2 separate regions of the Homo sapiens genome follow, and region 2 is linked to region 1. The links come from fine-mapping of genetic effects on gene expression. A gene starts in region 1. The other region holds a variant in brackets. All regions are shown on one strand. Distances are between the middles of the regions. Region 1 holds the start of GRIK2 (glutamate ionotropic receptor kainate type subunit 2). Region 2 has its middle 64 kb from the start of GRIK2.

The links. PIP is the estimated chance that this variant, and not a neighbour inherited with it, causes the effect.
Region 2: its variant is the best candidate, but not a certain one, in a credible set for the expression of GRIK2 in skin (TwinsUK, PIP 0.72).

What each region holds. Positions count from the first base shown.
Region 1 is chr6:101,392,379-101,395,302 of GRCh38, reverse strand. It overlaps GRIK2 (glutamate ionotropic receptor kainate type subunit 2), which reads right to left and starts at 1,595. Exons shown (of 17, transcript NM_021956.5): 1 at 1,466-1,595.
Region 2 is chr6:101,328,218-101,331,141 of GRCh38, reverse strand. No RefSeq gene overlaps it. Among named protein-coding and RNA genes, the nearest start is that of GRIK2, 64 kb to the left of the region's middle. The variant C/A (reference allele first, on the strand shown) is at 1,257.

The DNA of each region.
Region 1 (2,924 bases):
TCTTATAGTAACACCTAACCTATTATTCCATGCAAGTGGCCTGTTGCATAGCAATTTAGCTAAAACAAACAGCCTGTTTATACATGGCATTAAAGATCTCAGAGAATAAAGTCAGGACTGAGTCAGGTTTCAGTTGAAATCACACTGTTGCATACTTGCAACTCACTCTTCTTAACTATGCATGCTGTGGTATCCCTTATGATTCTGAACACATTATCAGCTGTTCCAGCAACATTCTGCTGCATTGATGATTAATGACATTTAGAGTTTTGATTAATTTTTAGACACTAAAATAAGTGTATCTTAATTAACAAATTGAAGTGGAATAAATTTACATATCCCAGAACTTTTTTTTTTAAATTTCAGCCTGTGTGATTTTCAATGGGTTTAAATAGGAGAAAACAAACAGATAAGACTTCCAAACATTGCTCAATTCTCTATCACCTTGCTCTTGTGCATTTCAATTTTTTGTTGTTTGTTTGACTCAAAAGTTTTTAAGGCCACTGGAAGTTGATAGGCTGCCTTGGTGGTTACAGGAATAGACTCTATAAAGTTAGAAAGTAATGAACTAAGACAAATCAAGATTGAAATACAATTGCATTTATTTCAGTAACTAAACTGACTAATTAAGACTCAAATGAACCAATCATCTCTCGTGAAATGAAAATAATCATCAATCCATAAGATAATTTCTGATGACAGAATACTTACAGTATGGAGATGAATAAACGATAGAAGATAATCTGTGCATTACCAAAAGGCTACTAATAGTAAGTTTTCTAATATTCCCCATTGCCTAAATTGGAAATTATTCTCTAAGGAGCCTCAGCTCGGTCGTGTTGTTTGGTAAAGAAACTCTATCTCCTTAAAGGTAAAAATATCAGAGGATGTGGTTCGTTAAAAGTTCTTGAGGTTTATGATCCACCCTGGTAACACTGCCCACTCCTTACCCTAATGGGACGCCCTCCAAGTTTTTTCAGAAGCTCTTAATACGGGTGCCGGTTAAAATAAATATACTTCCTCAGCGCAGAACTAAGGAGTAGGGTTAATGGAAGGATGGGTGGGCAGAAGGAGGGATGGGGAGTTCGTCAGACCCGCCGGCAGCCACACAGCTTCTTGCCATCTGTCTCATTCTCTTCGCCTCGCGTGAGTCCCCGTAGCTGAGGCCACTTCCTGACACGTCCACTTCTTAAATCATTTTATGTGGAGAACATAGGCGACTGCAGCCAACAGAGCCACTTGCATGCTTGACGGGAATTGGCTGAGATAAGCCCGACAAAGACTCGCAGTGAATCCGTCCAGCGGGCGCCCCGAGCGCACGGACGTCCGCAGCGCTACTGTTCGCCTTCTTCCTTCTCTCCAGGTGGAAAATGCCCCTCGCCCACCCGCAGTCCCTCCCGTCCTCTTGAAAACAAACACCTCGTGAAGGAGCCCGGAGTGCAGCCCACAGCCGGGGAGTCCTTACCTGGAGCTAGGGGTGAGGTGGGCGGGGAGGGGGTGGGGTGGTCCTCGGGGAGGAGCAGCCGGAGGAGGTCGGGCGGAAAAGTCCCCAGCTACCAGACCGACCAGCGCAGCCGCCGGCGCCGAGCGCGAGTGACGGCAGCGGCGAAGACGGTGACCGAGGAGCAGCAGCGGCGGCGGCGGCGGCAGAGACAGACACGCCTCCTGGCGGGGGTTCCTCGCCTCTTGCTTTAAAGGCGCCGCGCTCCTTTCCCCGTGGCCCCTGCACGCTCCTGGCCGCCGCGGCCACTCGGGGGCATCTCCCACCCCTGGACCACAGGAGCTAGAGCGAGAGAATTCCTGGTGTCCCTAGACTTGGATGTTACGAAGCCTCCGGCTGGACTTCGCTCCCTTAGCGCACACCCGCCTCCTGGGATGGGGAGACTAAGGCCAAGATGCTCTGTCAGGGAGTGAGTGATGCATGCAAAGCGCCGAGGAATTTGCCTAGCCTTGGGTGGTGACAACACATATAAGGAGCCCAAACACATTTGCTTCTGGGTGATGGCTTTTATGCCTCTCCGAAACCATAGCAACGAAACTTCTCCACTGCCAGGGCTTGGAGGGCTGCTGGTAGTCTCCAAAGTGGACCTCTTAGTCCAACTACGGTCATTTCCCTGAGGTTCGCAAAAAAAGATCTTGATCTGCGCACCCTCCCACCCCGACCTCCAGCGCATAGAGCAAATGCGCTCTGGTAGCGCTGCTGCGGGTATTCCCTCAGATGCTGGGAGTCACAGTGCCCTGCTCCCTGCCACCATTATTGAGAACAGATGCTTGGAAATTGACTTTTCCTGAGTGTTAGGAGGTCGGGCGGGCTGTCTCTGTGTATGTATGGCGCCTTAAATAGCAGACTCCCCTCTCCCCACCAAACTCCCGCCCAGGCCCCGGAACTCTCAACCTAAACACATTTCAGAAAGAAGTTGGATTCGAGATCTAGTGGGCGCCGAACCTGAGGTCGCAGACTCCAAGATTGGAGACAGGAGTCTGGGAAGCAGCCCTGGTTTGGCGGCCACTGGTCCAAGTTCTCGGGAGGACTCTTTTAAAGGCCAGAGATGGGGAGGGGCAACTGAGTCCCAGAGTCTTCCCGCAGCTTGGCTTCCAGGGAGGGGCTGGCGGCGGTGAGCGCACCAGGCTCTCCCTGCTTCACTGTGGAAACGATTAGCTTTTGCAAACAATCCCTGAGTTCCGCTCCTCTGGGTCGGAAAAGTCAACATCTATTCAAAACCGTTGCTATTTTATCCTCAGCCCTACAATATTAACTGGAGCTGAGTTTAGCAGTTTCCCCCAGAGGAAGTTGGCCAGCTCAGATTCGCGAGGAGATTTAAGTGAGGCTAAGCGGGAACAGGCCAGGCGCACTGGGCTCAAGAGACCATTTCAAACGGGCTGCATAAAGAAGGGGCCAGGGGGGATTCCACGGCTCTGCAGTC
Region 2 (2,924 bases), 64 kb after region 1:
GAGGTCGCGCCACTGCACTCCAGCCTGGGGCGATAGAGCGAGACTCCGTCTCAAAAGAAAAGAAAAAAGAAAAAAGAAAACAGAAAATCTGAATAGACTCGTAACAAAGAGTTGGAATGATGATCAAGTTGGCCTTAACATTACCCTCAGCTTCACTAAACTTTAAATAAACTGCAAATAAACTTCTTTCTCATTATATGCCCCTGAAGTTCCTTTTCTTAGAAATTTTATTCAGAAAACTTGTAATTATAAATTATTTATCTGCTCTTTGAAGACGTAATTTTTTTTCCAACCTCTTGCCAGTTTTACATTTCAGGAATATCTTTCTCAAGGACCTGGGAACCATCTCTCTGAAATGTAATCATCCAATAAAAAAGTGTTCCTATCTCCCAGTTTCTGGGGGAGGGTAGAAGTAGGTAGGATACCTTGCTCCAAATTGTGAAGCTACTTTCTGTTATAAAGACAGGAGAAGGTTTACTTTTTCTCTGGGAAAAACCAATTCGCAAACACTGATGGCCTATAATCTCCCTGACCTTCTCCAGCACTTAAAACATTTCCAGCACTTTGTCTTGAAGGAACCAGGTATCCAGATGTGTTGTGTGACCTCTGCTCTATGCTGGCACTAGTATCAGAATAAAAACAACTGTTGTCTGTCTGCTCATCTTGTCCGGTACATTTTTTTTTTCTTTAATAGCTAGTAATAACAACAAGAAAAATCCCACAAAGAAAAGTACAGGACCAGATAGCTTCAATGATAAATTTTATCAAATGTTTAAATAAAAATTAATACCAATCCTTCAAAAACTCTATTAGATAAATAGATGAGGAGCACTTTTATAGGAATATTATGAGGACAGTATGACCCTAATTCCAAGGCGAAAGATATTATAAGAAAAGATCACTACAGATTAAAATCCCTTAGAAATATAGATACAAAAATTCTCAACAAAATACTGGCAAACCAAATCCAGCAACAAATAAAAATATGATACATTATGACCTAGTTTGAATTATCCCAGGAAGACAAAGTTAGCTCAATATATGAAAATCAGTCTATGTAGTATACCATGTTAATGGAATAAAAGGGAAAAATTACATGATTATCTCAATAGACACAGAAAAAACATTTGACATAATCTGACAACCTTTCATGACAAGGACACACAACAAAATAAGAATAGAAGAGAGCTCCCACAATCCGTTAAAGAGCATTTATTTTTTTAAAAAATACCCACAACTAACTTAATAGTGAAAAA[C/A]TGAAATCTTTCCCCCTAAGTTGAAGGACAAGACAAGGATGCCCATTCTCGCCACTTCTATTCAACATTGTACTGAAAGTTCTAGTTGGGAAATTTTACAAGAAAAAGAAATTAAAGGCATCCATATTGGAAAAAATGTGAAATTATTTTTACATGAAGATGACATGATATTATATATAAAAAACCTATAAAAATACACATATATACACACACACACGAACTAATAAACAAGTCCAGCAAATTTGCAGGATACAAAATCAATAGACAAAAGGCAATTGAATTTCTATACTCTAGCAATAAACAATCTGAAAATGAAATTAATAAAATAATTCTACCATCAACCAAAAAAGTATAAGCTTTTTACACTGACAACTATAAAGTATTATTCAAATAAATTTTCAAAGATCTAAATAAATGGAAAGCATTTTGTGTTTATTGATTGAAAGATTGAATATTGTTAAGAAGGCAATATCTCCCAGATTGAGCTACAGATTCAATGCAATCTTTATCAAAATTCTAACTGCCATTTTTGGTAAATAGAGAAGTTAATCTTAAAATTCATATGAAAATGCAAGGGGCTCCAAACAGCTAAAACAATATTAGAAAAGAAGAATGAAGTTGAGAGACTCACATGTCACAATTTAAGAAGCTACTACAAAACCACAGTAATAAAGAGAGTGTGGTATTGGCAGAAGAATTGACTTATAGACAAAAGGAATAGTATTGAAAGTCCAGAAATAAGGCCATACAATAAGATCAACTGATTTTGGACAAGGGTACCATTGCCATTCAACAGAGAAGGAGTAGTCTTTCAGCAAATGGTGTTGGGCAACTAAATATCCACATGCAAAAGAATAAATTAGGTCCTCAAACCATATATAAAAATTAACTCAAAATAGAATAAAGAGCTAAATATAAAAGCACCATGTATAAAACTCTCAGCAAAAGTAGATGTATATCTTCATAAGTTTGAATTTGCAAGATTTCCTGTGCCTATCAAATCATGATAGACCTATCAACATTCATTTCCAGCACTACTTCATTCAATGTATTCAGACTTCAGAAAATATCTGCAACTGTGCCTATAACACTGGTCCTGTTCTCCTGGGAACAGATTCATTTCTGCTGCTATTTCCTGCCCTCAGACTTTACTGTGCGTTATTTTCTAGTGATTGCCAATAATTTGATCTGCTCCAATCCATGCATGTCCCTGTCCCTGAACTCTCAACCTCATAATACACTATAAAATGCACATTCTAGTCCCACCCTGGAATGACTCTGTTCCAGCCCTCAGTTATTATGAAATATTTCTGACCATAATTGTTTATTCCATGCATAAAATATTCCAGGCTTAAGTTAAGATTTAGAAGTAAAATGTAAAATAAGCCCAAAAGATATCCTATTTTTCCAAACTATAGTGGTTTAAGAAGAAAAAGCAAATTCATTTTTCAGGTGTCTGATTTGGAGATTATACAAGTAAATAATGTTTTTACTAAATATTAGTAGAATTAAGAGCTAAATAATGGAGAAAATAAATATTCACATTTTATTTACATTTTCTTACTTACACATGAACTCTTATTTTTACCTGATTCAACATATTTCCTAAATTGCAAATGTATAGTTTTCATCTTCGTCAATTTATATTGCAGATTGAATAAACTGTAC